Regions from separate parts of the Homo sapiens genome. Here all the other regions are linked to region 1. The links come from fine-mapping of genetic effects on gene expression. A gene starts in region 1. Each other region holds a variant in brackets. All regions are shown on one strand. Distances are between the middles of the regions. Region 1 holds the start of ARL5A (ARF like GTPase 5A). Region 2 overlaps CACNB4 (calcium voltage-gated channel auxiliary subunit beta 4). Region 3 has its middle 46 kb from the start of ARL5A.

Evidence for each region. PIP is the estimated chance that this variant, and not a neighbour inherited with it, causes the effect.
Region 2: its variant is the best candidate, but not a certain one, in a credible set for the expression of ARL5A in lung (TOPMed, PIP 0.55).
Region 3: its variant is the best candidate, but not a certain one, in a credible set for the expression of ARL5A in blood mononuclear cells (TOPMed, PIP 0.64).

Annotation. Positions count from the first base shown.
Region 1 is chr2:151,822,172-151,832,883 of GRCh38, reverse strand. It overlaps ARL5A (ARF like GTPase 5A), which reads left to right and starts at 4,463. Exons shown (of 6, transcript NM_012097.4): 1 at 4,463-4,753. The coding sequence starts at 4,708. It overlaps CACNB4 (calcium voltage-gated channel auxiliary subunit beta 4), which reads left to right. Exons shown (of 14, transcript NM_000726.5): 14 at 1-113. RefSeq lists enhancers at 4,138-4,187, 9,002-9,061 and silencers at 4,238-4,747, 4,798-4,847.
Region 2 is chr2:152,054,375-152,065,086 of GRCh38, reverse strand. All of the region lies in intron 2 of CACNB4 (calcium voltage-gated channel auxiliary subunit beta 4), which reads left to right. Among named protein-coding and RNA genes, the nearest start is that of CACNB4, 39 kb to the left of the region's middle. The variant A/C (reference allele first, on the strand shown) is at 4,799.
Region 3 is chr2:151,777,291-151,788,002 of GRCh38, reverse strand. No RefSeq gene overlaps it. Among named protein-coding and RNA genes, the nearest start is that of ARL5A, 46 kb to the left of the region's middle. RefSeq lists an enhancer at 5,054-5,348. The variant G/A (reference allele first, on the strand shown) is at 6,019.

The sequences.
Region 1 (10,712 bases):
TGCATGCATAGAGTATCCTCATTTCTATGGATTTGTTTTATGGAATTTAAATGTGTACAAAACAACTGCATTACTTTTTTTCTTTTATATAATAAATGAAAAAAACACTGAAACCAGCGTTATACCTCTCCTTTATATTATTCTAGAAATATATTGAAGAAATACTGGAAATCAATAGGTACTCTTTTATGAAAAAAAGAAAAAGTCTAAACATTTATCCTAAAAAGGGATTCAATCAAATGACTACTTTCTGAATACTCTGCCAGGTGCTGTGAGTGATCACAAAATAAGTACTGTATTAGGAAAGGGTTTATAAGTTAAATACACACACATGTGAAATAAAATACATTCGAATACATGTGCAAAATAGGATTGGATATAGAAAAATATACTAGATGAAGTATTATATTGTTCGCAAGTCATCCACTCCAAAATGATTAATATTGCAGTTATCAGACATTTCCAAAGCTATCTTGTACCTGTAAGAATTCCATAGTATGTATTTGGGGTCAATTGTCTATGTTAAGACTTGATTGGAATTTGACTTTTTTGTCATTTCACTGTATAGGAGATTCCAAAGAAATATGGACTATGTTGATTTTTATCACTGCATTAGGATTATACAGTGATTTATTAGAGTCAAGTTATTTCACAATTATCACATTTAATTCATCTGATCACCCAGGAAAGTAGGCCGGGCATGGATTATGAGATACAAATACAAATGAGGAAACCAAAGTTCACTGAAACTTCTCTCTCAAAAGAATTTTTCTTTTTTTTTTCTTTCTGAGATGGAGTTTCACTCTTGTTGCCCAGGCTGGAGTGCACTGGTGCGATCTCGGCTCACGGCAAGCTCCACCTCCCGGGTTCAAGCGATTCTCCTGCCTCAGCCTCCCAAGTAGCTGGGATTACAGGCATGCGCCATCACGCCCGGCTAATTTTGTATTTTTAGTAGAGACGGGGTTTCTCCATGTTGGTCAGGCTGGTCTCAAACTCCCGACCTCAGGTGATCCGCCCGCCTCGGCCTCCCAAAGTACTGGGATTACAGGCGTGAGCCACTGCGCGCAGCCAAGAATTTTTCTTTAAAAATACGTACTCATAGCCGGGCGTGGTGGCTCCTGCCTGTAATCCCAGCACTTTGGGAGGCCTAGGCGGGCGGATCACCTGAGGTCGGGAGTTTGAGACCAGCCTGACCAACATGGAGAAACCCCGTCTCTACTAAAAATACAAAATTAGCCGGGCGTGAGGGCGCATGCCTGTAATCCCAGCTACTCGGGAGGCTGAGGCAGGAGAATCGCTTGAACCCGGGAGGCGGAGGTTGCCGTGAGCCGAGATGCACCAATGTACTCCAGCCTGGGCAACGAGCGAAAGTCCATCCCCCCACCAAAAAAAAAGAAAAAGAAAAAAAAAAGTACTGATATGTTACTTTTAAGCTAGGTAATCATCTGAAGCATACAAAACAATGCCTGGAATACAATAAATGTTGACTGAATGAATAGTACCTCAGTTATTGGAGAGGTATTATATAAGGCTGTCTCAACTATCAAAGTATTTCAGCCAACAATCTGAAACTCATCTACCAGCCATATGCCTGAAGCTACTTCTCCTGTCATCAGCACATTTCCAATAATAAAATGTACGAGGGAGAGAAACATCTCATTTGTACTTTGATACAACATGCAGATTAGCACAGTGGTTTGAGTGTGGATCTAACCTTTGTCTGGGTTCAAAGCCCAGATCCAGCAATAACTAGCCATGAACTTGGGGCAATCACTTAATGTCCCCATGCCTGGGTATTTCTGTAGAGTGATTTGCTTTTGGTTATGGATCACATTTTCCTGTTTCCTTGCACGTCTAGTGATTTTTTATTGGATTTAGGACAATGTAAAGTTTACATTGTTGATGACTTGATCTCATATTCCTTTAAAGAATGTTATACTTGTTTTGGCAGGCAATTGTGAATTAGTTTGGCCCTTTCAAGGTTTGGTTTTAAGCTCCTTTAGGATTGGTCTTGTGTAGGGCTTATTCTTAGGCCAGTTAGCTCCTCTTCTAAGGTCTCTGGTGGTGTCCACTCAACTATATCGAGTTTATCCAACCCACAGCCTGTGGGCTGCATGCAGCCCAGGATGGCTTTTTAAAAATTAATTAATTAATTAATTTATTTATTTATTTTTGAGATAGTCTTGTTCTGTCACCCAGGCTGGAGTGCAGCGGTTTGATCTTGGCTCAGTGCAATCTCCACCTCCTGGGTTCAAGCAATTCTCCTGCCTCAGCCTCCAGAGTAGCTGGGATTACAGGTTTGCGCCACCATGCCCGGCAAATTTTTGTAATTTTTGGTAGAGACGGGGTTTCATTGTGTTGGCCAGGCTGGTCTCGAACTCATGGCCTCTAGAGATCTGCCCACCTTGGCCTCCCAGTGTTGGGATTACAGGTGTGAGCCACTGCACCCGGCCCTAGGATGGTTTTGAATGTGGCCCAATACAAATTCGTAAACTTTCTTAAAACATTATGAGTATTTTTGTGATTTTACTTATTTTTTAGCTCATCAGCTATCAATAGTGTTAGCTTATGTTATGTGTGGCCCAAGACAATTCTTCTTCCAGTGTGGCCCAGGGAAGCTAAAAGATTGGACACCCCTGTCCTATATATTCAGTTCTCTTCACTCTGGCTGAAGGGAACTCAAATGATTCCTGACCCGTTGTAATCTCTGGGAATCATTTGCATTACAGTTTCCTGGTACTTATTTTTCCTCAGGAATTGTGACTGACCAGCCTCTTGGGGGTTCATACTGCACGAGCACAAATTGATATGCAGCCAAAGACTCAATGGCCCCTTAACAGGTTTCCAGAGCTTTTCTCTGTGTAGCTCCCTCCTTCCAGTTACTCTGCTTCACAAATTCTAGTCACCTTGATCTCTGGGAATGCTGATATGCGTCTTCAGTTCTAAGAGGTTTCCAGATTCTCATTTGGGTTCCCACTTCCTCCGTAGTTGACTGGGAATTGCTTTTAGGGATAAAGTCCAGGAAATGGTAAGACTCCACCTGTTCCTTTCTCTTTTGCAAAGAATCACAGTACTGTGATGTGTTTTTCAATATCTGAAATGTCGTTGCCTGTACTTTGTGCAGTTTTCTATTTGCTAATGGTAGGAGGATATATTCAAACCATCCTACTCTCTCATGCCTGAAGTCAGAAGTCTCTCCAATGACATTTTGCATTTCTCTGTAATCATAGATAAATTGGTCTTTAAACTCTCTGTCTCTGTCTCTCTCTCTCTCTTCTTTCTTCACTCGGAAAATAACCTGGGAGACCATTTCCTTGGGTAGATTGTAAAATATGAAGCTCCGCCATCACATAATGTGTATATGACATCCATTTCATAAGTTGACATCTGTGTGGGAGTCTGAAAAAGTCTTAGAGCTACCAAAGCATTACCTACGGTGTGCGAGAATGGAAATATTACAGAGTTAATGCAAATTGGTTATACAAACTACATTGTTCTTCTAAACAGTGTACAGAATATTAAGTAAATCCAGACATGATAATACATAAATTAATATGGATTACTATGATTTTCCTTCCCTTCATGTATGGCTCCTCTAAACTTTGGCTTTTTAACCATAAAGCCCCAAAAGAAGTCAACGAAATTACTTTTCTATATTTTGAGGTAAAATACTGGGTAGTTAGGAGAAGTGAGTTGGGAAGGTGCGGTTTATTGCTGATTTTGCTTAATTTCATTCAGCTGTTGGGGATGGGAGTGCAAAGCAGTTCAAATGGCTCCTACAAGTCTCCCAATTTTTCTTTATTTTCCTTTTTACTAAGGTTAACGAGAACAGAAAGGGATGGAGCTTTGGTGGCCACTAAAGGTTTTTAAACAGGGTAGTGACTTGATCAAAATCGTTGTTTTGGGCAATACTGACGTGAGAGTTAAGAGATTGGAGAGAAAAGAGCCCTGAAGTGCAAAAATGGCTTTAAGGTGACTATCTAGGTAAGGCCACTGACTTCAGCTGAGTGTCAGAGGGCAGCAGACTTTTCCCTCAAAGACCCACAGGGGACACAATGTCTTAAAGAGTCATGACGTGGAACTTTAAGTGTAGTGTATGTGAAGGGTTGGGGATGGACATGGGGTACTCAATTATATGTTTACATTATGGCGCAGTGGAGAAGATTCGAGGGAAATATAAATACTCGGGGACGCAACAGCAAGCAGTCGGAAGCCATCTGCCCCAACTTGCGGTCTTCACAGCCTCAGTCCCAGGGTAAAGTCCTGCGCCTTCCGCAGTCTTGGTTATGCAAATAAGCGAGGACAGGGCGGGCGCCCTTTCCTACGCTCCGCCCCTCTGGCCGCGCGCCTGCGCACTCACGTCCCTCCAGGCCCGCCCCTTCACTTCCCCCGCCCGCGTGGTCGTCGCCACCGCAGCCGCCCGAGAGGAGCTGGGGGAGGACGGTGGCCCGCGAGGCTCGTCGCAGACAACGCGGCGGCGATGTCCGCGAGCCAGGCGAGTGCCGCGGCGGCAGCGGCGGGGCCTTGCGCGCGGCAGGGCGGCCTGGGCTTCGGCCTCCCTCCGGTTCCCTGGAAGCGGGCCCGCGACCAGCGCGGGAGCAGCAGCAGAGGCGGAGGCTCCAGCGCGTCTCTCTCCTCCCCCTCAGCCTGAGCCGGGGGAAGCCAGGCGGCCCGGGTGTCTGGAGGGGGGGGGTCCGCTGCCCGAGAATGGGAATTCTCTTCACTAGAATATGGAGACTGTTCAATCACCAGGGTGAGGAGCTCGGTCCGCGGGCGTACGGGTTGGGGAGAGGGTCAGCTCGGGCCGGCTAGGTGGGGGTCTCCGAATACTTCGGAATGTGGGCGGCTCGGTCGGGCGCCAGCTCAGCGCGGGGTGCAGGCTGCGCGGATACGGGCCCGGGACGGTTCGGTCCCGGCTCCCGAGCTTGGGGATGGTTCCTGACTCGCAGCCCTTTGTCTTAGGAGACCTTCCTAAGAAGTCTTTTCCGTAATAGACCCATTGCTCCGATTTCGAATGAGAGTGGTAAAGGTTTCTTGCCCTAGGTCCGACGTCCCTGAGTAGCACGGCCTGGCCTGTCTTTCAGCCCTTTCTTTGCTCACCAGTTGTGTTTGGACACCACATAGAAGTGCTGGGGTCTTCTGGAATGAAGGTTATAGATTGCTGCCCTAACCGCACCACTGAGCGACCGAGGGTTGCAGAATGCGGAAAACGGGAGGAATCGCTCGACTTGTCCATTACACCTCTGGTTTATGAGCCTGCCCTCCACTGCCACCCGTCTTTGTGTGTGTTGGGGGCAGGGGGGGTTCTTCTGCCTCCTGAATAGAGATGGACTTCTCTCCATTTGTTTTACTTATTATATCTGTGTTTAAGGTTAAGCTTAAGGTCATTTTTCTACTCGTGTGGGTTATTAGACACAGTTTTTGTTTGTTTTGCTGGGTTAAAAATGTTAAAGTGTTTCACTGAAAGTTTTAAAAACATACCATATGAAACATTTGTTAACCATAGGTAACTAGCAAGTTACTAAGTGTAAAGTGTGTTATATAGGGATGCTTAAGTTCAGCCAACTTCAGACATGGCCATGAAATACCTATCAGGCTTGTTAAAATTTGTTACAAAATGACTAAAACTGGGGAAAGAGAATACAATTTTAACCCAAAGACTGGATACTTATTAAGATACAGTGGTGTACTTTTGTTTCTTTTTAACTCAAGTTGGGTGGTTCATCATTCCGCTGTCAGGAACTTAGTTTGTGTTTTTCTGTTGTGTAAGCTGATGGTGTCACGTCCCAGTTTTCCAATAAAGACTTACGTGAATGGTGGCATCTATTATGTACACCTACTACTACCACCTCCTCCTTCATGATCTAGCTGCTCTTTTAAGAAGCTTAGGGGAAGCAAGCAGAACTAGAACTTGTGATCCCTAATGTATCTTTTACGCACACACACACACACACAGATGTGTAGGTCACGTGATACCGAAAGAAAGGGCAGTATCAATTTTTCTGATAAGAGGATTTTTCATAAAGTAGAGAAAATCAGTTCTAATCAGCACTGTCTCTGACTGGACTGGCTGTTAGTGTTGGGAGCAGGAGAGTGGGAAGCAGTCACTTGAACTCTCAGGTTTTCTGGTCTAGGTTTTCTCACCTAGAACACCAGGGATCTGTGGAGCTTCCAAATCTTGTAAACTTTATTTCTACATTGCAAATATTAAAACGTACATTGCTGTAAGACTGATGGTACTTATAGTAGATAAGATCTATTCTAGTTTTAACATCCATCATTTTGTATTATTTTTAGCAAAGCTAGTGTTTCATCTGCTGTGAGGTTTAGCAAGACTGTGAATTGAGCTCTAGTGCTGCCAGAAAAAGAGTTATCACCACTTTCTATTTTGAGTCAATGATAAAATTATTTGTTTCTGTAAGTTAAGAATAAATGAGAACTTTGCCAACAGCTCCTTGGAGTAGTAAATAATAAGGGTGTGTGCTCTGGTATCACTACAAATTGCTAATAGTAGTGTTTTTATAACCTGTATTTTGTGGTAATTTTTGACGGGACATTTATGGCAGTTTGGCGGAAATTAATAGAGAAATTAATGAAGTTAAGTTCTAGAAAATTAGATATGAATATTGTGAAAGTGTGAATAAATTATTTATTTTCTGCTAAACAGTGTGGCTGTCTTATCAATAGGGTCACTTTTCCGAATATCCACCATTTAATCTAATGCCAGATATTTGTTGGGTTTTGTTTTTGTTTTTGTTTTTTTGAGATGGAGTCTTGCTCTGTCACCAGGCTGGAGTGCAGTGGTGTGATCTTGGCCCACTGCAACCTGTGCCTCCTGGGTTCAAGCGATTCTCCTGCCTCAGCCTCCCGAGTGGCTGGACTACAGGTGCGTGCCACCACACCCAGCTAATTTTTGTATTTTTTGTAGAGATGGGGTTTCACCACGTTGGCCAGAATGGTCACCATCTCTTGACTTCGTGATCCACCCGCCTTGGGCTCCCAAAGTGCTGGGATTACAGGCCTGAGCCATGGTGCCCAGCAGGGTTGTTTTTTTTTTTTTCTGTATAGGACATATATAAGTTAGATATGTGTTGGATGCTCTTGTTTTACCTTCAGTGGATTCAGAATGCAATCTTACTTTCTTTTCATAGAAACTCTTGGAAAGTATGTTTCGGGAGATTACAGAATTTGCCATCTGATGAAACTTAAACTATGCAGTATCTCCTGTTTCTGAAACCCCTCGAGAACAGCTTTTTCAGTTAAAGCTCAGATTGAGTGCACAGTGAAAGCTATTTGTATACCGCTCGAACTAGAAAAACCAGAGGTCACATTTAGTTGATACTGAGATTCAGTAGAGTACAAACTTTATCCTAGATGCTGTCATTTAAATCATTTTATTTTATTTTATTTTATGTTTTAACAATCTTTTGAAGTAGTTATTTCCCCTGAAAAGGGAAAACTGAGGCTTAAGTGGAATGATTTTTTTTCCCCAGGCCATGCAACTGGTATATGCCAGAGCCAGGCAAGTTAAAACCCTGAAGGAATCTCTTAAAGAAGAGATTGACATCATTTTTCCCTCCCTCCTCCTCCCCCCATTAACTTTTTCAGTTGCTAATCTCTAAGTTGTCTTTAGAACTTCGAAAAGTTGCCATTAGTAACTTTTTTTTATAGAAGAGCTTGTGATCAGTGGTTTACTTGTTCTCAATAAACAAATATTTTAACACCTATTTAGTCCAGGAAGTGTTCTACATGGTGGGATAAGGGAACAAAACAGACAAATTCCACTGCCTTTATGGAGCTTTCATGTAGTGTTGGGAGACAGGAAATTAACTCACTTTGTCTCTACAAGTAAAATAATAGTGGTTAACACTTGTGCAAGGTTCACACAGGTTGTTTGATTTAATATTCACTTAGTTGATTTACTCTTTACAACAACCCTACAAGGTAGATATTATTCCCCTTATTTTACAGGGGTACGGAAACAGGTAACTTGCTTTAAGCACTATAGGTAAAAGTGATAGACCTGGATTTTAACCACGATTACGTAGTGCCGGAGTTATTTCTCCTACGCACACACACCTGGATTTTAACAAGATTATCTAGTGCCAGAGTTAGTTCTACACACACATGCACGCACGCACATTTGCACACAACTTCGTGTAAGAAGGACTTTGTATAAGAAGGACTCAGATAAAAAGAACTGACTGATGTGAACTATAAAAGAAGTTGTGGAATTTCCTCATTAATAGCCTTGTATTGCTCTCTTGGTTGGTTGCTAGAAAAGGAATTATAAGTATGAATGGGTGCAGGAGAAGCTGCCTGTGCTTCAGGAACCTGATGCTGAGGAAGCCACCTCTGTTTCTGGCTTATTATTGTTGTTATTATTATTATTATTATTATTATTAGGGAGTTTAAATGTGTAGAGAAGAGTACATATGGAAGCTGAGTAGCCAAGGGGTAGACTGTGTCTTAGCTTCTAATACAGATGCTCCTCAATTTGTGATAGTTGATAATTTGTGATAGATAGATAATTGAAAATACAGTAAGTAAAAAATGAGTTTAATATGCCAGACTTACTGAAAACCATGGCTTTAGCCTAGCTTGCTTTATACGTGCTCAGAACATTTATGTTAGTTTACAGGTTGGCAAAATCTAACCCAAAGCCTATTTTATAATAAAGGTTGAATATCTCGTGTAATTTATTGAATACTGTACTGAAAGTGAAAAACAGAATCTTTGCATGGGTACTCGAAGTATGGTTTCTACTGAATGTGTGTTGCTTTTACAACATCACAAGTCAGAGACCATTTGTAAACCCTTTTTGCATGCTCTGTGGAAGTGGAGCTAGGTCCTTTAAACGTTTTTCTTTTGCCACTGGGCAAAATGTTAAGTTTTGTCAGTAGGCTGCACTGGAGAGGCATTGTAGGAGGAAAGGGTGTTTGTACTTAGTTATAGTGTGCTTTCTTGACGGGCTCTGCTTGTAGCATGAACACCGTCTCCAAGGCCTGGCTCTTGTACTGCATAGTGGTCAGCAGCAGCCAACAGCTTCCCCTAGTACCCGTCTTAGTTGGTTTCATAATGGAAGGTCTCCAGTGAAATACCTCTCAATAAACAGTTTTCCTCAGCACCGAAGAGGGAGGATTTTTGGGCAGGTTCCACTGGCACCTCACCACAGCTACTTCTCTGCCATTCAGTGAGCCACTATCTGTGCCCTCCAACGAGATCTGCATCTTAAGTCTGGAGGGAGGGGGAGGACCTTTATCTCAACCCTAGGGATAGTGAGTGCTTCTTAAATTTGACATTCCCATAATCTTTTAGCCAATCTCTCATTACTCCAGTCCCCTGTAATATTTTTTTGATGTTGAACTTTCCAAGTTCAAATTATTGTGTGATTTCTGCCTCCTGATTGGATCTCTAATTTTGCCATGTGTAATCATTGCTTTTTTTTTTCAGCAACCTCATAGTGCAAAAGAAAATTTGGTTATTCCCCTGAAACTTAATTTACCATTACTGTAATAGCAAGTTTATTTTCAAACTTTCTTTTTATTGTTAAGACTTTTAAGTTTTAAAAATTGAACTTTTAATACAAAACGACTTAAGCAGATATCTCTCTCCTAACCTTTATATTTTCCAGATCTGATTTATTTATTCATGAAAAATATTAAGCTCATGCTTTATTCCAGGAGCTGTCCTATGGACTAAGAGAACTATAGTGAATATGACAAATGGAATTTTTTGCTCTGAGAGACATAGAATTAATAGGGCTTAGTGATAGTTCAGATATGAGGTAAAAATGATGAATCAAGAGGACTCTCCATTTATTTGCCCTGGTGTTTTTGTGTTTTCTGATGTTGTATGATTCACAGAGATAGTAATTCTCTACAATAACAATTATTATTATGCTTAATTTATTGACTGATGAGTTGGGGGAATATATATTAACTTTTAAAAACTGGCAATGAATGGAACTGGTAGACTGCCTGTGTCAAAAGGAAATGAAGGAAAAGGGAAACAAGAAGCAATTTTCATGACAAAACAGTAAAGTATTGATTGGTATGTTAAAGCCTAATTGGTAACTCACAGTTCCATCAAAGCATTAGAACAGTGCAGTTGTTGTGGCTTATTTGAGTAAATACAGGAATGCTGTGACATAGTCTAAAAGAAAAATCATACTAAGCAGTAAACTTCTGATGATTCTTGTGCATCAAAGAGTTGGAATGGCTGAAAGTTTTATTGCATTTGTCCACAATAACATTCTTGTAGTAGGCATATTGGGATTCTATGAAGTCTTTATTTCGAAGTGCATTATAGCACTTTTTGGCTACAAATTTACATTTTGTATAGATGCTTTTCCATCTTGCTAATGAAAGGAACAGGCTGTGGTGGTGAGAGTAAGGATGTTCAGAGGAAATTGATCTACTATTAAAAACTTTGTGACTAATCTGACCCTATTATTGAGATGACACGTTTGTCTTTGAGCCCATTGCACAGTTTGGTCTTAATTTTATAGTTCTCATTGTGACCCACATGCTATGTCTTAGATTTAGGAAGCTATTAAAAATGGTCATTGGTGGCCGGGACGCAGTGGCTCATGCCTGTAATCCCAGCACTTTGGGAGGCCAAGGCAGATGGATCACCTGAGGTCAGGAGTTCAAGACCAGCTTGGCCAACATGGCAAAACCCCTATCTCTACTAAAAATACAAAAATTAGG
Region 2 (10,712 bases), 230 kb before region 1:
GACATGCAAGTAAATCACATTTACCACACAAGCAAGAGTATGCATGGAAAGGTGAATAAGAATCAGTCCTTGCCCTAAAGAGCCATTCCTTCTGCTGGTCTTGAAGTTTCATAGGAGCGCTGCTGTGTAGCAGCTGATTGTGAACTCAAGGGTCAAGCTTCTCTGGATTTAATATTGGGGGTCTAGTTTCTCTCTATGACAGGTGGAGAGGATTTCTTGGATTTTATGACAATCTAGACAGAATTTCTTAGATTTTATGGTCTAGTTTCTTTGCCCGGATATATTTTGATACCAGTTTTTGGGTAACTGTCTTAGGTGATAATTATGAAAAAGTCTGTTTTCTTTCTTACCTGTATTTATTATTTGAAGAACATATGTATGTACTACTTTAAAGTACATTATAGGGCCGGGCGTGGTGGCTCATGCCTGTAATCCCAGCACTTTGGGAGGCCAAGGTGGGCGGATCACTTGAGGTCAGGAGTTTGAGACTAGCCTGGCCAACATGGTGAAACCCTGTCTCTACTAAAAAAATACAAAAATTAGCTGGGCATGGTGTGGCGTGCCTGTAATCCCAGCTACTTGGGAGGCTGAGGCAGGAGAATCGCTTGAACCTGGGAGGCAGAGGTTGCAGTGAGCTGAGATCGCAACACTGCACTCCAGCCTGTGTGACAGAGCGAGACTCCGTCTCAAAAATAAGTAAATAAAGTACATTATAAACATTCTGGTGCATATACAAAAATGAAATATTAAAGAATAAAATATAGATTTGAATATGGAAATAGAGACTTGAATATTTTCTTCCTGCACTCCAGCAAATGTTTTTGCCTTCTCCCTGGGCTGCCAAAGTCCACGTGGGAGACATCCGATTCAGATGTCCATGGCTCCCTTCATGCACTTCAACAATGTGAATTTTAAGAGATGTTTGGACCCATGTACTCACCGTTAGACATAGCTAGACCTAAACTAACCTCTGTGTGTAGTTATATATTGAAGACTGTCTTCCTAACATTTCAGAACTTCTGTTAATTTCCAGTACTCTATCATTCACAAGACTGTTATTACATTGTCTGCTGAGAATTACAATGAATTTAGAACAGGGGTGTCAGCCTGTGTTGGCAGATAGGTTTTGTTTGGCTCATCATTCAGAAAAAAATAATTTTGAATGACTGCCAAGATTTGAAAGTTGGGGGATTTTGTACACGAGTCTGAATTTTCAACTTTTCTGGAAAAATTGTGAGGAATGGCAAAACTGGCTTTTCATTCTTCTAGGAAGACATTCGGAGCTGATGGGTGGCTGCCTCTTTTAGGTAGGCATCTGCCCTCTTGGTCCTCATTAACCCTGCCCCCCGCCTCACAGCCAGTGTGCTTCACTCACTTATATTACTTATGTGTCTTCTGTAGAATTTAAGTTGTTTGCTTTGGTCTAAATTTTGCAAGTGTTAATATTAACACAGGCTTCTTGAAATTATGTAATATGCAGAAAACTCTTCAAACCTCAATCTGTGAGGAGTGCTGTTTACCTGGTTTATTTGCTGAGAACCCCAGGAGCTTGATTGCATGCACAGGCTGGAGCTGGCTTGGTGCAGTGTGATTTTCCAAACAGCCTCTAGAGCAAGATTGCCTGGGTTCAGGTTCTGACTCTGCTGTTTTCTAACTGTGGGACCCTGGGCACATTAATCACTCTCTGCCTCAGTTTCTTTATCTGCATAATGGAGCTAATAAATGAATAGATGTAAAATAACAGGCTAATAACATTGCTTGGCACATAGTAAGCATTTAGTATGTGTTGGCTGTTATCTTTAATTTACCAATTCCTATAATTGGGTATTTTGTAATGATTTTGAACAGATTTGGAACTGTTAGAGGCTATCTAAACTGGTTGAGAATAACTAAATTTACACTGTAGAATCATCTATGTACAGTTCACTGAACAGTTAACTGATTACCAATATATGTGCAATAAACTCCCAGTGACATTGCGATATGTCTGGAATGGAATCTAATCCCTTCTCCCTAAGAGGTTAGTGAATTCCTTAGTATGGAGCAGCTGAGGGAATTGTCTCTGTCCAAGTCCATCTGGATGCTTCTGACTCATCTGCTGATCCTCCTCTGCGTGGATGTCTGGCCCACACCCTAAAGCTAATCTGAGTCCCAAGGGGCATTTTCTTGTCCAAAAGTTGATATGCTAATTTCAGAGAAGTGCTAGCCTTTCTGTCTAAAATTGCTCACAGTTCACACCTCATGTCTTGTCTTCTGCTCTGTTTCCTTCCTAATTTGGCATTACACAGGTCTGTGCAAAGCCAGACTTTAAGGAAGTTCCCTCTCCTCCCGTGTCCTCTGCCAAATGCTTCCCGTCTGTCATTGGCAAAGGCTCTGTCTTGCCATGATGGGAGAGGCCAGGAGCTGCTCCAAAGCTGGTGGAAAGAGAGCCGTTCCACGTTCAGTGCTCCGTGAAGAGCTGCTTCCACTATTGAGATGGGGAGGTGATTAGGTCTAGGTGGTTTCCAGTTTGGCTTAGCCACAGAGATCTTGCCCATTCTGTGTATGTACCCCCTTGGCTTGCTTTAGGAATGCATGTATCTGTCAGAAGTGCTGTTTTTCTGGAAATTTCTTTGTTCTGGTGGTTTAAAGCAACTATCCTTATGCAACTGACACAGTACATAGAGAGACTGGATCAAAAATGAAATAAAATGATTTAGAAGAGTGGTCAGTGAAGTGTTGGTCTCAACTCAATGGCGGTGTCAACTCAGTGGTGTGACTGGACTGGCCTCTGGCTGAGGGGATGTTCACAGTCTTTGCTGCCTGAATACTGTTTTTCCTAAACTCTCTAGCTAGTTTTTTTTTCTATCTGTTGTAATGCATTAGGAATTCCATGTATTAGCATGTGTTTATTCACTGAATTAATGAGTAGTTAACCAAAAATTAGGGGAAATTTTCACAATAAGGTACATAGAAAGTGAATTTATCTAGTAATCTTAAGTATTTGCTGAAAAAGAATTACTCAGGGTATCAGGAAATCCAGAAAGCATTCCTAATCATTATTATTATTATTATTATTATTATTATTATTATTTTGAGATGGAATCTCACTCTGTCACCCAGGCTGGAGTACAGTGGCGCGATCTCCGCTCACTGCAACCTCTGCCTCCTGGGTTCATGTGATTCTCCTCTCTCAGCCTCCCGAGTAGCTGGGATTACAGGTGTGTGCCACCACACCCAGCTAATTTTTGTATTTTTAGTAGCGACAGGGTTTCACCATGTTGGCCAGACTGGTCTTGGACTCCTGATCTCTGGTGATCCGCCTGCCTCGGCCTCCCAGAGTGCTGGGATTACAGGTGTGAGCCACTGCACCTGGCCCCTAATCATTATTTACATGATCATTCTTTATTCTACTGTTTGAGATGACAGTCATATCTGGAAACATTCATAACTTTTTTTTTTTTTTGCTTTGAGAAGCAGAAATCACAGTGGCTAGATTTGGATTTTTGAATTTACATGGTTTATGACTTGAGCAAGTCATTTAAGATCTATGAAATTGATGTAATATGCTCTTTTTACTTCACAAAGTTTTGGGAGGCTCAAATAAGCCTACTTACTTAAAGCTGTTTTTAAAAGTAAAATGTGATAGATTACATGAGTTATTTTTGCAGTCTAGATGTTACTATAGTAAATATTCAATTAGTAATCATTTGCTAAATTTGGACAATACTAATTACCTCTTTTCTCTATTTTAAAAATTTCAGATATTTTTAAAAACTAAATTAATTTTTTTTTAGAGACAGGATCTTGCTCTGTCACCCAAGCTGGAGTTCAGTGGCACGATCATAGCTCACAGCAACCTCCAACCCCTGGGCTCAAGCAATCCTTCTACCCTAGCCTCCCGAGTAGCTGGGAGGCTACAGGCATGTGCCACCATGCCTAGCTAATTGACAAAAATTTTTTGTGGAGACGGGATCTCCTTATGTTGACCAGGCTGGTCTCAAACTCCTGGCCTCAAGAGATCCTCCCACCTGAGCCTCCCAAAACGTTGGGATTATAGGCATGAACTATCTTGCCCAGCCAGTTTTAAATATTTTTGATTAAAAAGAAATATATGTTCATTGCAAAACATCTGTGAAACACAGAAAAGTATAAAGATCACCTATAATATGGCAACTGCTATATATTAACATTTTGTTACATCTTTTCATATTTTCTGTGTATATGCACACATAGATATAGACAATGCTTTTTTTTACAAAAATTTATGTATTGTTTTGTTATTTGATATTTTCATATAAGACTGTATTGTAGACATCTTTTCCAGTTAATAAGATCTAGTTCATCACTGTTAATCTGATGTGTAGATGTACCGTGATGTATTTAACTTGCCCCTGTTGCTGGAGATTTGGTTTTCCAATATCTTATATTTTCTTGATGCTGATGTTTTATTTTCTTATGATAAATGTATAGAGTTGGAGTTCCTGGGCAGTTGTTTTCTAAGTTGAAAATCTAATGTACACTGCTCCCTCACCCCTTGACATGAGTTGTGGAATAGCTAATAATGTAGATTGTATGCTTTTTTACAGTCCTTGATACATTTTGAGCCTCATAGCATGCTATAACATTGGATTTATCAGAGCAGTAGTTTTCCTTGAACCTATTCAAAGGAGGTATGCTTAATTTAAAAAATCTGAAGACCTCATTATAGCATAGTTTTACTTGTAGCTCAGCAGTGGTTCTCCTGTGAATTAATAATGCATTAATAATTTTAAATCTTTTAATGTAATGGTATGAAATGAATCAACATTCAGCAAAC[A/C]TTTACTGAATCCCAACTGTTGATTAACTTTTTACTACACACCAAAGGCTATAAAGATGAATAAAACTCAAGTCATTTTCCTTGAAAAACAGTCTAGTGTGGGAGATAGATGTGTAAGCAATTAATTATATAACATTGTATTAGTCCATTTTCACACTGCTATAAAGAAACACCCAAGACTGGGTAATTTATAAAGGAAAGAGGTTTAATTGACTCACAGTTCCACATGTCTTGGGAGGCCTCAGGAAACTTACAAACATGGCAGAAGGTGAAGGGGAAGTGAGGACCTTCTTCACATGGTGGCAGGAGAGAAAAGAGTGAGGAGTGAAGAGGGAAGAGCCCCTTATAAAACCATCAGATCTGGTGAGAACTCACTCACTATCATGAGAACAGCATGGGGGAACCACCCCCAAGATCCAATCACCTCCCTCCTTGTCACTCCCTAGACATGTGTGGATTGCAATTCAAAATGAGATTTGGGTAGAGACACAGAGCCAAACCATATCATTCTGCCCCTGGCCTCTCCCAAATTTCATGTCCTCACATTGCAAAACACAAATCATGCCTTTCCAACAGTCCCCCAAAGCCTTAATTCATTTCAGTATTAACCCAAAAGTCCAAAGTCCAGTCTCATCTGAGACAATGCAAGTCCCTTCTGCCTATGAGCCTGTAAAATCAAAAGCAAGTTAGTTCCTTCCAAGATACAATGTGGATACAGGCGTTGGATAAATGTTGCCATTTCAAATGGGAGAAATTGGCCAAAACAGGGGCTACAAGCCCCATGCAAATCCAAAATCCCACAGGGCAGTCATTAAATCTTGAAGCTCCAAAATGATCTCCTTTGACTTCATGTTTCACATCCAGGTGATATTATTGCAAGAGGTGGGCTCCCACAGTCTTGGGCAGCTCTACCCCTGTGGCTTTGCAGGGTACAGCCCCTGCTCCCACCCTGGCTGCTTTCACGGCTGCCGTTGAGGGTCTGCAGCTTTTCCAGGCACACACACAGTGCAGGCTGTCAGTGGATCTGTCATTCTGGGGTCTGGAGAATGGTGGTCCTCTTCTCACAGCTCCACTATGCAGTGCCCCAGTGGGGGACTCTGTGTGGGGACTCCAACCCCACATTTCCCTTCTGCACTGTCCTAGCAGAGGTTCTCCATGAGGGCTCCACTCCTGCAGCACACAAGTGCCTGGACATCCAGGCATTTCCACACATCCTCTGAAATCCAGGCAGAAGTTTCCAAACCTCAGTTCCTGTCTTCTGCACAGCCACAGGACAAACACCACATGGAAGCTGCCAAGGCTTGGGACTTGCACCCTCTGAAGCAATGGCCCAAGCTGTACCTTCGCCCCTTTTAGCCACAGCTAGAGTGACTGGGACAAAAGGCACCAAGAGGCTACATACAGCAGGGGGGATCCTGGGCACAGCCCATGAAACCATTTTTCCCTCCTAGGCCTCTGGGCCTGTGATGGGAGGGGCCACTGTGAAGGTCTCTGACATACCCTGGAGACATTTTCCACATTCTGTTGATATTAACACTGGACTCCTGGTTACTTATGCCAATTTCTGCATCCAGCTTGAATTTCTCCCCAGAAAATGGGTTTTTCTTCTCTACCACATCATCAGGCTGCAAATTTTCCAAACTTTTATGCTCTGCTTCCCTTTTAAACATAAGTTCCAATTTCAGATTATCTCTCTCAAGTTCAAAGTTCCACAGATCTCTAGGACAGGGGCAAAATGCTGCCAGTCTCTTTGCTAAAGCACAGCAAGAGTTACCTTTGCTCTAGCTCCCAATAAATTCTTCATCTTCATGTGAGACCACCTCAGCCTATACTTCACTGCCCATATCACTATCAGCATTTTGTCAAAACCATTCAACAAGTTTCTAGGAAGTTTCAAATCTTTCCACATCTTCCTGTCTTCTTCGGAGCCCTCCAAACTATTCCAACCTCTGCCCATTACCCAGTTCCAAAGTTGTTTCCACATTTTTGGGTGTCTTTATAGCAGTACCCCCCTCTTTGCGGTACCAATTTACTGTATTAGTCTGTTTTCATACTGCTGTGAAGAAATACTTGAGACTGGGTAATTTATAAAGGATAGAGGTTTAATTGACTCACAGTTCTGCATGGCTGAGGAGGCCTCAGGAAACTTTACAGTCATGGAGGAAGGCAAAGGGAAAGTGAGGACCTTTTTTACATGGTGGCAGGAGAGAGAAGAGTGAGGAGCAAAGTGGGAAGAGCCCTTTATAAAACCATCAGACCTTGTGAGAACTCACTTATTATCATGAGAATAGCATGAAGGAAACTGCCTCCATGATCTAATCACCTCCTACCAGCTCCCTCCCATGACACATGGGGATTATGCAGATTACGATTCAAGATGAGATTTGGGTGGGGACACAGCCAAACCATATCAAACATCATGGTAAGTTGTATTATAGTATGTCCTTGGAAAAATAAAAGTTTCCTTCCCTCTGCCTGCCATAGGCAGAGACTAGAGAGAAGAATGGGACTTTGTCAGTGTACCTCATTAGGACTTTTCAGGGGTCAGTTCAATTCAAAGTCTCTGCTGAAGATCTGTGCGTGTGCATATGCCTCTGTGTGTGCATGTGTGTATGTATATACATATTTTAAAACCTGAAATGGGTGTCATGGAATAGAAGGGGAGTGAGAGGGAGAGACTGAGTAATACAATCTAGTGGCCAAAGGATTCTTACAGACTAAATGTCCGGTATTCAGTTTTGTGCTTTTAGGATTTTTGTAATGTAAAGCCTCCCTGTCTCCCTAGCCCATGAATAAAGTCTTCTGTATACACAGAAGTCACAAGTGAAGGGGCAGTTTGTTTATTTTTAGGTTTTTGTATTCCTTAATTATTGTTGCATGAATAACACACATTTGTTTTCTCCTAATTTTTGTGGCTTAGGAATCTAAGCATGGCTCAGCTGTGTCTTCTGTATCACCTGTAGTCACAAGGCTGCAATGAGGGTGTCAGCTAGACCTGGGGTCTCATCTGAGGATTTGTGGGAAGGATCTGCTTCTCAGCTCATTTGCATGGATTTTGACAGCATTCAGTTCCTTAAGGTGTGTTGGACTGAGGGTCTCGGTTCCTTGCTGGCTGTTGACAGGAGACCACCCTAAGTTCCTTACTATTAATACATGGACCTCCAGCCAGTGAGAGAGAGTCTGCTATTAATAACAAGATGACAATCACTATCTTTTGTATTGATTAGGGGAGTGACATCCCTCAATGTTGCCGTATTCTGTTGGTTACTCATGAGAAGAGGATTGTACATGACTAGGAATACTGGGAGGTGGAGATCTTTGGGGGCCATCTTAGAGGCTTGCTATCAGAGCTTTCAGTGGAAATCAGCATAAGGAGTTGAGGTCTATGTTTGTAAAAGTAAGGGATAGTCACAAGACACATAGCAGAGAACAAGAAGTCAATGAGGGCAGAAAGTTGGAGGTAACAGTATCCATAGGATAATCACCATTCTCGCCTTATTGTCTAGGGATTTCAGACATCCTGAATGGGTACTAAATTTTCCACAGGATGTGGAGTTGTGGTGCAAGCAGTGGTAACTGGAGCATAAAGAGCAGCATGATTCCAGTTGCCATCTGGGTTATAATAATAATAGAACTATGAAGAAAATGCCAAGGGCATCACACACAGGTAGAGTCTATTAATTGCCTAGCAAAGCTGGGAAGACGTCACTAGGGGGTGGCATGTCTAGGTCTTCCCGTGTGAGCAGCAGAAGGAAGGTACCTTCCAGAGCAAAGGAGTTTCTAGTAGTGCAGTGGTTTTAGTAAACCTGGAGAAAGTTGATGAGGCTTGAGTGTGTGAAACATGGGAGATAATTGTAGCGGATAAACTGACAAAGCATTTGGGGACACGATATTTCTGAAAATTTCTAATTTCTTTTTTTTTTTTTTTGAGACAGAGTCTCACTCTGTCACCCAGGCTGGAGTGCAGTGGCGTGATCTTGGCTCACTGCAAGCTCTGCCTCCTGGGTTCATGCCATTCTCCTGCCTCAGCCTCCCAAGTAGCTGGGACTACAGGCCCTGCCACCATGCCTGGCTAATTTTTTGTATTTTTAGTAGAGACGGGGTTTCACCGTGTTAGCCAGGATGGTCTTGATCTCCTGACTTCGTGATCCATCTGCCTTGGCCTCCTAAAGTGCTGGGATTACAGGGGTGAGCCACCGTGCCCAGCCGAAAATATCTAATTTCTAAAAAATCTTGCGGGTATTGATGAACCAATTGGTATAACCAGATTTTTAAATATGGTCCTTCTGGCTTCAGTGTGGTGGGTAGTCACAGGGGCGTGGTGGTGAGTAGAAACCATGTGAGGAGGTGATGATAGTAACAGGCGAGTGAGGATATAAACATACTGAGCTTCGGTCGCCACTCACTTGCTGTGCCTTGACTGCTCTTTGTCACACTTTGCCCAGTTTCTGTCTCCTTCCTCCTTAGTAGTCAAAGTTTGAAAATTTCAGAGGTTAGAGTTCCTCCGAAAAAAGTTATTTGTCTTGGCAATAGCTTCTTAATTATCTTCTTAGAATCAGGGGGGAAATCAGCCTTCAAAGCTATTTTAAGGATTAATTAACAATTCTGAAAGGCTCCAGAAGCTTAAAAGCCTTATCTAGACTTTGCAGTGTTCAGTAATAATCAAAGTGATAATCAGAGCACAGCAGGACTCAGTGGGGTGTGCAAATCCATTCATGTCTTGCATTGCCTGTGGGCTGTGTGGTCTGCCATGTCTCCATAAGTGAGTGAGTCAGGGTAAGGAGAGGCCCTGCTGCTAAAGTGGAAAAGAATCAATGCCTACAACTGACAATACAAGCTGAAAAAAGCTTGTTTAAAGTTGATCTTAAGATATGGCACTGAAGCACAAGTAACCAAAGAAAAAAATGAATAATTTGGAGCTCATCAAAATTAAAAACTTCTGTGCTTCAAAGGTTACTATCAAGAAAGTAAGAAGAAGACCAGGCATGGTGGCTCACACCTGTAATCCCAGCATTTTGGGAGGCCAAGGCAGGCCGATCACTTGAGGTCAGGAGTTCCAGACCAGCCTGGCCAACATGGTGAAACCCTGTCTCTACTAAAAATACAAAAATTAGCCAAGTGTGGTGGCATGTGCCTATAGTCCCAGCTACTCGGGAGGCTGAGACATGAGAATCCCTTGAACCTGGGAGGCAGCGGTTACGGTGAGCTGAGATTGTGCCACTGCATTGCAGCTTGGGTGACAGAGCAAGGCTCTGTCTTAAAACAAAAAAGAAGACAACCCACAGACTGGGAGGAAATATTTGCAAATCTTATATCTGATAAGGGACTTGTGTCTAGGATATATAAAGAACTTTTAGACTCAGTAGAAAAGACGTTTCAAAAATAGGCAATGGATAGGAATAGACATTTGTCCAAAGAAGACATACCAGTGGCCAATAATCACATAAAAAAAAGTGCTCCGTATCATTAGTCACCAGGAGGAAATGCAATTCAAAACCACAATGACATGCCACTTTACACCCACTAGGATGGCTATAATAAAAAAGACAGATAATTTTTGGCAAGAATATGGGGAAATTGGAATCCTCATACACTGCTGGTAGGAATGTAAAATGGTGCAACTACCATGGAAAAGTTTGGCAGTTTCTGAAAAGGTTAAGTATAGAGTTATCTTATGACCCAGCAAGTCCACTACTAGGTACATATGCAGGATAAATGAAGGCATGTGTCCACACAAAAGCCTATACAAGAATGTTTTTTGCAGCATTATTCGTAATAGACAAAAAAGGAAACAACCCAAATGGTCATCAGTTGATGAGTGGATAAGTAAAATATGGTCTGAAGAAAAAATAAACAATTTTTCTCCTCTACTGTCATACAGTCACTCAACACAATACTATTTTTTTTTTTTTTT
Region 3 (10,712 bases), 45 kb after region 1:
TTATTACTACATCTATTTGTTAGTAAAAGGAGGTTACATGTTGCCTTAGTGGTTTCTTTGCACTTAAATATTTTTTAAATTATTTGGTTCTTGGCTGGGAACTTAGTCCAATATGTCTGCTAAAGTATTTCCCATTTCTTGCCACCTCTACAATAGTGCCATAATTTCCAAGTTGATTTGACATGTATCATCTTTATTCTCACAATCCTGAGAGGTATATAGAGCAAGAATTAAGTTCTACATTTAACAAAAGAGAAAACACACAGAGATTGATTGGCTCTAGGTTATATAGCTAACTGGTAACAAACCAATTTTTATTAAAATTAATTTTAAAAATTTAACTTTTAAAGTTTATCTTAAATGATGAACATCGCTTGTGTTTTTCTTGCATGTAGTTTCTATTTTAGGAGAATTTGCCTAGGGGTAGTTCTGAAACCAAGTAAAAGTAATTGGATTATGAAGGTCTTCTACCTTAAACTAGCTGTCAACTTTAAACTCAACCATTTAATAATTAAATTTAAACTTTACATTTGTTTAATTTAGTAATGTTTCTTCACATTAATCAATTTTTCAAATTAGGAAAGTAATAAATGACAAAAATGGAAGAACATTTATTAAAGATAGAAAAAATGTTTAATGGTCTTGTACATATAAATGGTGTTAATGTTTTGGCTTCATTTTAATAAAGCTTTTATTAAATAGTGTCAGAGAGAGTGGTGGTTATTTTGTAAAGAAAATGTAAAATCTTTTTTCAAATTATAAAATTACTTGCTTATTTTCATACTTGGTGAGAGCCAAATTAAAATTATTTATAGTTTAATGGGCTACTTTTCTAATATTTGCTAGATAAGAACTTCACTTGAATAAAATATGTCACATAAATTTATACAACATTTTTCACAGTGAATGTGGTTCTCAAAAATTTTATTTCTAAGTTGGAACAGAAAAAGATAAGAAATATAAATATGTATAATGAATATAAATTGATTTCTTAATACTTTCTACTCTGACTGAATATCAAAATTAATTAATATGCTCTTTGAATCCTAGAAAAAAAGCTAATAGTTTAAGTATTAGTAATGTACTAAAATTAAAATGACCTTAAAAAGGGATTCAGGTATTTCATGCTAAATTTTCCTTTGATTTTAAGTTACCAACTGATAGAGTACAAAAGTGATAACTTTCTGAATATTGTTGCTGTAAACAAGCATATATTCAGTTCCTCCTGTGTGAAAAGAAGCCAAATGTAATGATTGTGGTCTTATTCAGCGACAAAGTGCTGATGATATTATTTCCATAGACAGTACAATTCTGCAGCTGGCTCTGTCAGTCTAGGAAGAGAGCTCACTAAATAAAGACCATGAAGTAATTTGCAATTCAGGGGCAGCATTTTAAAGGAAATGAGCTGAAAGTCTACTCATTAAAGTCAAAGGAAACCTTGTGCTTTTTTTTCTTTTCAATATATTTGTTTCTTCAAAGTGTAGCTATACCAGCTTGCATAGCCCATATTGGGAATTCAGAAAAAGGTGACACTGTTAAAAATTTTACTTTACTTTTTGGAGAAGTTCCTTGGAGATAGATCTTTTGGGGTAAAAAAATTATTTGGGTGTCTGGAATTTAAACCTACGTTGCTCGTTTCATTTCAGACATATAAGAAATGAGTTTCAGAGGCATTTGTTAGTTGTCTGTTTCCTCGCAGTGTAAGACTGTCAAGCATATAAATGCAGGAGCCCCAGTGGCCTGAAAGCAGTCAAGAGTTCCTACCCTCCTTGGCTCAATGGAAACGCAAGTGAACTATACAGCGTTCAATGGACCAATCAACAGGGCAAAAATCAGTAAGTGCATGTCCAGTTTTCTGAGGACAATATTTTAGCTACAAATGATTCTTTTGATGCTGTATGTATCTCCTCACCCCATCCCCCTTAGGGAGTCCAAAATTGTGTCATTTGGCTTCTTATGTATAATAGCAAAATTTTATTTATAGCAAAATAAAAGTCAGTAGACATTTGAGTAGCTACTCTGACTTAGAAACTGCTAGCAGTCAGGGATGTAGAGAATGAAACCATGTATGTTGCCAGTTGCTTAATCTGGTGGGACAGATTTATGAACAAATAGCTTATGTGGTGTTAGAAATATATCACAGGTAAGTATTTCTGCTTCTAGTAATCAAATTCCTGACATACATACTTTTGAAATAGCCTAAAGGCCTGTAAGAAATAGGTCAGTGCCAGGGCATCTCCACTTTTTATTAGATGTCAGTAGCAAGCTTGGTTCTTCTATTAGGGTAGGTTTGTTTTCTTCTTTTCTTATTTGTGCCTACTGCTCTTTCACCTCTGTATTGTGGGACATTCCTTATCACATGCCCCCACTTGTTGCTACCCCAAGTCACTCAGGGTTTTACCAAACTTCCCTCTCCATCCTTGACCTTTCAGTGTTTATTTAGACCCTAGTAACCTACAGATTCATGCTGCCTGTGTGATTGTTCAGATGATGTCTGAAAGGTAATGTGTGTGTCAGAAAGTGAATTCATCTTCCCTACCCTCCACCTCCTGCCTCCTTCTTTCCCATTTCTCAAATTTTGGTACCACTGATCTTGGCCCTGCAAAGTAGCAACACCCTTAAATAGAGTGTTCACATATGAGTGAGATCATGTGGTAGTCCTCTTTATGTGCCTGGCTGATTTCACTTAGTGTAGTGTTCTCCAGGTTCATCTGTGTTGTTGCAAATGACAGCATTTCCTTCTTTTTTAAGGCTGAATGGTAGGGAATCCCATCTTGCACAGTGTCTCCTGAAACACCTAACTCAGCACACAGTGGATGCTCTTCCTCCCTGCCCGCATGGGGTATTGCTGCGGACTCCTCAGGTCTCCTCCATATTCCTTTCCCCATCCCCAGCAGACAGCCTTGCTTCATAATTTAAAAGATGATAAAGGCTATGCGGTGTGAACTCCTGGACTTCTCTACCATTTTATCTCCGTTTGCTCATTTTCTGGGAGTTTGTTCTCTCTAGTCACTGAGGCTGATTCAAGTCTCCTTCCATAACTATACTCTTAGTTCCATTTCCTTTTGCATTCATGCCTTGTTTTTCTCCTTCCATAACATTTTATGGAACACCTACTATATGCATGCCACTGTGCTGATGCTGGGAATGTAGTCATCATAATTAAGATGGTCAAAGTTGAGCTTCCATTGTAATGAGGAGAATCTTTTTTATTGGTTTTTCAATCTCTTCCCCTCGAGTGGTCTATGTGATCTAAGACATTTCCAACTTTTCCGCTGTATAAAAAAAATAAAATCCTAGACTCTCTTAATGTTATACCTCCTTCTTGATACTACCTGATTCTTCCCTTCCCTTTTCAACCAAGCGCCTTGAGAAAACATTATAATGTTTCTGAAACTTGAGTTCACCCAAACTATTTTTAAAGAACCTTGTTCTGTATCTTGTAACCTATACAAAAATAACTAAAAATGGAATATAGACCTAACTGTAAAACTTGAAACTATAAAAGTTCTTAAGATAACACGGAAGAAAATCTTTGTGACTTTGGGTTAGGCAAAGATTTGTTAGCTGTATAACCAAAATTTGAGCCATAAAAGAAGAAAAAAAATTAAACTTCATAAAAATTAAGTATGGTAGTCTCCTCTTATCTGTAGTTCACTATCTGTGGTTTCATTACCCGCAGTGAATACCATGGTCCAAAATTGTTACGTACAGTAAGATGTTTGAGATAGAGAGAGACCACATTCACATAACTTATAGAAGCATTTTATTATAATTGTTCTGATTTATTATTGTTAATCTCTTACTATGCCTAATTTATAAATTAAACTTGATCGTAGGTATTATATATAGGAAAAAAACATAGTATGTAAGGTTCAGTACTATCCACCATTCCAGATATCCACTGGGAGTCTTGAAATGTATTCCTCCTGGATGAGGGGGAGCTATTTTACTTCTGCTCTTTGAAAGATGTGTATAAGAAAATCAAAAGATAAGCCACACATTGGAACAAATAATACTTGCAAATCACATATGTTATAAAGAACTTATATCTAAAAATCACAAAATAACTCAATTAAAAAAATAGAACAGTGTGCTGTGGCTCACACCTGTAATCCCAACACTTTGGGAGGATGAGGTGGGCAGATTGCTTGAGTCCAGGAGTTTGAGACCAGCCTGGGCAACATGGCAAAACCCTGTCTGTACAAAAAATAGAAAAAATTAGCCGGGTATGGTGGCATGCACCTGTGGCCCCAGCTACTCAGGAGGCTAAGGTGGGAGGACTGCTTGAGCCCAGGAAGGGGAGGTTGCAGTGAGCCAAGATCGTGCCACCACACTCCAACCTGGGTGACAGACAGAGACCCTGTCTCAAAGAAAAAAAAAAGGCAAAAGATCTGAACAGACATTTCAACAAAGTAGATATACAGAGGACAAATAAGCACATGAGAAGATGCTCAACAGCATTAGTTATTAGGGAAATAATAAGTAGCTTCTCAAAAAGTTCAACCTGTGCCTATTGTATGACCCAGCCATTTCATTACTAGGTATTTACCCAAGTGAAAAAAGCCCAATCAAAGACTTGTACACAAATGTTCATAGGAGCTTTATTTACAATAGTCCACAACTGAAAAAAAAAAAAAAAAAAATGTCCCTTAGCACATGCAAGTACAAACAAATTGTGTTATGTCCCTACAATGGAATACTACTCTGCCGTAAGAAGGAACAAACTATTGATACACAAGACACATGAATATCAAAATTATTATGCTGAATGTAAGCCAGACAAAAAAGATTGCATACCGAATAATCCCATTTATATGAAATTCTAGAAAATGCCAAGTAATCTATAGTCACAGAAAGCAGATTAGTGGGAATGGGAGACCAGGGAAATATGGGAGCTGGGATTACAAAGGGGTGTGAGGAAACATTCTGGAATGATGGATATATTCATTATCTTTATAGTGATGATGGTTTCATGAGTGTTTACATATGTCAAAACTTACCACCAAATTGTATCCTTAAATATGTGCAATTTACTAGATGTCAGTTATACCTCAACAAAGATTTTTTCGTTTTTTAGAAGGCTACATAATGTGCAAGTCCATTAATGTGACATTCTTATGAAGGCAAAACTATAGAGACAGAAAACATATCAGTGGTTGCCAGGAGCCAGGGTGATAGGCAGGGTTAACCACAAAGTAGCATGGGGGACATTTTTGGGATGATGAAATCGTTTGACATTTTGATTACAGCGGTGGCCACACGACTATACATGTTTGTCGAAATTCACAGAACTGTACACTAGAGGGTACGTTTTACTATATATTAATTATACTGTAATTTTGAAAATGGAAAAATTATTCAAATAAGTCTATGAATACCAGAGTTGTTTTTACTAAATTTCCACATCCTAGTACATTGAGTAGTGCACCCTTACCTGCAAGGGTTATGTTCCAAGATCCCCAGTGGACACCTGAAACCATGGATAGTATGGAACCCATATATATTAAGCTTCTCCTAGACATACATACCTATGATGAAATTTAATTTATAAATTAAGCACAGTAAGAAATGAATAATAAAAAATAGAACAATTATAACAATTTACTACAATAAAAGTTCTGTGAATGTGGTGTCTCTCTCAATGTCTTATTGTGTATAATATTTTTGGACTTCAGTTGTCTGTCGGTCAGCAAAACTACAGATAAGGGAAGACTATCTGTATATATAAAGTCAAGTATATTTTTATTTATAAATCAGATTTATTACTGATACGTTTAAACCAAAATACGTTTACAAATTAAATTTTAAACACCACAAATTCAATACAATTCAAAGAAGCAACATTTATTTAATAAGATGGACAATGTTATTTTGCTGGATGTAAAACATTTGTGGGTACAGCTCCTTCCCCAGGACCACCTTCCTGGCCACCCCCCAATACCTGGCACCAAGTGTAGTTCTCTCAAGGCCTCTCTCCCCTCCTGGATGGTCCTTCCCTTCTCCTGGATCCTCACT[G/A]CCATCCCCTGCAAAGGTTCGCTGTCTGCTGTGTCTCAGCCACATGCATCTGTCTCCATTTTATGCTCCACACAGGTCTCCTGTTGGATACGCAGGAAAGGTAGCTTCTGCTCCTAAAAACGGAAAAGAAAGGAAAAAGGAAGCACCGTATAGGTCTGACCTCAGAATACAAAGTCTGAAAAACAAATGGGGAAGGTTACACACTTGCTGACACAATCCTTTCTCTGATGCTAAGAATGCATTTCTGTGGCAATACACAAGGACTCCTTCTATTACCTTAGCCTTGAAGGTGCCAGCTTGAGAGGGCAGAGACAGGAAAAATCCCACCCTGCCAAGCCTATGGTCCCGTTCTAGGCTCTGAACGACCTGAAGACAGGTACAGTCTCATGAATCTTTGTATCCTCAGTGCCTTGCAGTAGCTGGCATGTGTCAGCTAATCAATGAATTAATAAATTAGTAAATGAATGCATCAACCAAATTCATTCCACTGTGATGACTTGAATAAATATTCAATGATTAAATCGGTGCAACCAAAACTAAATTAATTGCTGCCCTAATTAATTTATCAGTAGGTGTGGCAGTGGCATCTGGTTCATACACCAATTCTCAGTAACACCCAATTGATGTTGTCTTTTCTAGATGTTCTGTTATCTGGAAGAGGCTCTGAGGACCAGTCTTCACATGTTTCTGTCCAGGTTATCTTACTAAAATGCTCCAGAAGTTCATATGTTTTAAAAATAAAACATCTAGACTCTGTGATCTTGGGCAAGTTGGTAAATTTGTCTGAGACTCAGTTTCTTCAGCAGTAAAATGGGGATACCAGTAGGAACAACTTCACAGAGTTGATGTGAGAGTTAAATGAGTCAATGAATGTAAAGTGCTTGGTGCAGTGCATGGCACCAAATGACAGTAAATGTTGATGACTTTTCCTCCTCCTGCTTGCACCAAGTGACAATAAATGTTGATGATTCCTCCCCCTCCCCCTCCCCCTACCTCTCCCTCTCCTCCTCCCTTTCTTCCTTCTCCTTCTCCTTCTTCTTTCTTCTTCTTACCATTATCACCACCACCACAGCCTTTGCAATTTTTTGTTTTCTATTTCCCACTAAGATGCTAGTATATCCTTGCCTACTTAGAGGAAGTGTTCTGAACTCTGACCGTCTCTTCCTTGTTTAGGAGAATTCAAAGAATTCTGTTACAATTTCACCTGGGATCTCCATAGGTGACTATTGCTTTTTTTTTTTTTTTTTTTTTTGAGACGGAGTCTCGTTCTGTCGCCCAGGCGGGAGTGCTGTGGCGCGATCTCCGCTCACTGCAAGCTCCGCCTTCCGGGTTCACGCCATTCTCCTGCCTCAGCCTCCCGAGTAGCTGGGACTACAGGCGCCCGCCACTGCGCCCGGCTAATTTTTTGTATTTTTAGTAGAGACGGGGTTTCACCGTGGTCTCGATCTCCTGACCTCGTGATCCGCCCGCCTCGGCCTCCCAAAGTGCTGGGATTACAGGCGTGAGCCACCGCGCCCGGCCGACTATTGCTTTTTATTGAAATAGAATAAATTTGAGTGACTTACCAGCTCCTGGGCACACAGATAATTGTCCTTTAGAGAAAACAACAATAACAACCTTAAGAGGAAAAATGGCACTAAATTAGAATGCGGTTTTGGTTATACAATTTCTGCAAAATTTATTATTGAGTTTCTAGTCATCAAGGTGAAAAGTGGCTTTCCAAAAGGGAGAGGGAGTAGGTGGTGGTGCTGTGAGGAGATAATAATGACCTTGCCCTTGGGCCCATCTCTGCAGGGGAGGTGGTGTAGGCTGGTGGTGATGGGTCCAGGGTTTCAGCTGGATTCAGTTTTGAATCTTCTCTTGATCTTGTTATATAATTTGGAGCAACTTACTCTGCCACCTCTCTTAGCTTCTCTTTTCTGCTTCACAACATCCACTTCATATGAGGATTAAATGAGGTCATACCAATGTGGGAAAAAGAAAATTCTCTTTAAAAACCTAATTTCAGATGATTTCATGTTAAAGGGACTCGACCAAGGAAAATGTATCCTTCTGTTTTGGGGCCATGTACTTCTAGAAGGCAAAGCCCCAGCTGCGTCTGGATGTAAGGTCAAGAGAAAGAGGGCAGTAACACTAACTGGCTCTGAGTAAGAAGGTGGGAGACTTTTACATTTTCTCTTTGAAACTCAAGAAAAGGAGTTTGGACCCTGGAACTGGAGGAAAAGGAGAGAGGAGGAAATGGCCAAAGTGATCTTTGCCAACAGGCTTGTTGGATGATGAAGTAAAGGTTGTTTTCTCTTTCACACTCTGGTTTTTTGTTACCTTTTCCCTAGTCTTCAGTGAAGCTTTACTACTTCCTTAGACTTGTATTAGCACCGCCTAGACTTGTATTAGCACGGGAAGGTCACATTCAGAGCAAGCTGAACAGAGAATCAAGTACAGAGTTTAGAGCAAGGAACAGGAGCGAGGGTGAGCGAGATCACCGGGAAAATGTAAGTTCCTCTCTGGAGCTCCTTGGAAACAGTAGAGAGAGAGCTGAGCTTCTCCTCGTTATCAATTTATTTACATTTTCTTGTCTTTGTATTTATTTGAGCCCAGATAACTGGAAGACTGGGGACAGGTGAAACATACTTCCCCACTGAGCATGTCTACTGCTACCACCTTAGTATAAGTTATCAACACTTGGCTTGGATGACTGCTATTGCCTTTTAACTAGTTTCTTTGAATCTTTTAGGTTTTTTTTTATTTTTTATACTTTAGATTCTGGGGTACATGTGCAGAACATGCAGGTTTGTTACATAGGTATACATGTGCCATGGTGGTTTGCTACACCCATCAACCCGTCACCTACATTAGGTATTTCTCTTAATGCTATCCCTCCCCAGCCCCCCACCCCCCAACAGGCCCCCATGTGTGGTGTTCCCCTCCCTGTGTCCATGTGCTCTCATTGTTCAACTCCCACTTACGAGTGAGAACATGTGGTGTTTGGTTTTCTGTTCCTGTGTTAGTTTGCTGAGAATGATGGTTTACAGCTTCATCCATGTCCCTGCAAAGGACATGAACTCATCCTTTTTTATGGCTGCATAGTATTCCATGGTGTATATGTGCCACATTTTCTTTATCCACTCTATCATTGATGGGCATTTGGGTTGGTTCCAAGTCTTTGCTATTGTGGATAGTGCCGCAATAAACATACGTGTGCATGTCTTTATAGTAGAATGATTTATAATCCACTGGGTTGGGTATATACCCAGTAATCGGATTGCTGAGTCAAGTGGCATTTCTAGTTCTAGATCCTTGAAGAATCACCACACTGTCTTCCACAATGGTTGAATTATTTTACACTCCCACCAACAGTGTAAAAGTGTTCCTGTTTCTCCGCATTCTCTCCAGCATCTGTTGTTTCCTGACTTTTTAATGATCGCCATTCTAACTGGCATGAGATAGTATCTCACTGTGGTTTTGATTTGCATTTCTCTAATAACCAGTGATGATGAGCTTTTTTTCATATGTTTGTTGGCTGCATAAATGTCTTCTTTTGAGAAGTGTCTATTTCCTTTGCCCACTTTTTGATGGGGTTGTTTTTTTCTTGTAAATTTGTTTAAGTTCTTTGTAGATTCTGGATATTAGCCCTTTGTCAGATGGATAGGTTGCAAAAGTTTTCTCCCATTCTGTAGGTTGCCTATTCACTCTAATGAACTCTCTCTTTTTTTTTTTTTTTTTTGAGACAGTCTCACTCTTTCACCCAGGCTGGAGTGCAGTGGTAAACTCTTTCTCTATTGCAATTCCCCTGCCTTGATAAATTGGCTCTATCTGGGAAGCCGGCAAGAACCCACAGGGTGTTTACATTACTATCTGTCTTCATGAAGGCAAAGGCTTTGATTTTCTTCATAAGCCCCATCATGCAGCTAGCACTTGGCTTAGTGACTAAACCCTCATAGGCACTCAACAGACATTTGAATAAACATGTCCTGGGCAGTGCTGTCCAATAGAAGTAAGATGTGTGCCACATATGTAATTTTAAATTGTTGAGTAGTTACATTCAAACGTAATAAGAAACAATAAAGTTAATTTTACTAATACATTTTAATTACCCAATATATCTAACATGTTACCACTGCAACATGTAATCAGTATAAAAATTATTGAGATATTTTACTTTTTTTGTGTTAAGTCTTCAAAATCCATCGTGTATTTTACATTCAGAGCACATCTCAATTTGTATTAGGTGCCTTGCAAGTGCTCCATAGCCTAAAGTAGCTAATGACTCCTGTACTGGACAGGGCAGGTCTGGAGCCTCCTAGTGTTCAATATATGCCAGTTGATAGATAATAGCACAATGCAAAGAATTGGAGAAAGAAAGTTTTATTCTGAAAGCTGCCGTACCCACTGGTTGATACGGTGACTATGAGACTTCATTCACCTGTTAACATCTGGAACAGCAGAAAGACCTAAAGTGCCCATGATGAATGAGTAAGGACACTGGACCAGGAGTGAGGTGAATATGCAAAAGCCTGTGTCTCCCAGAGCCCCAAAGAGACAGGAGAGCAGAGGACACCCAAAGAGCAACAGGCTTGTTGCACCAGTGGGAAGACACAGCAGGCAGCAGGCTTTGCTGAGGAGTCTGCCAACAGAGCATCTCAAAGTGCAAACCAGGCTGGGCACAGTGGCTCACTCTTGTAATCCCAGCACTT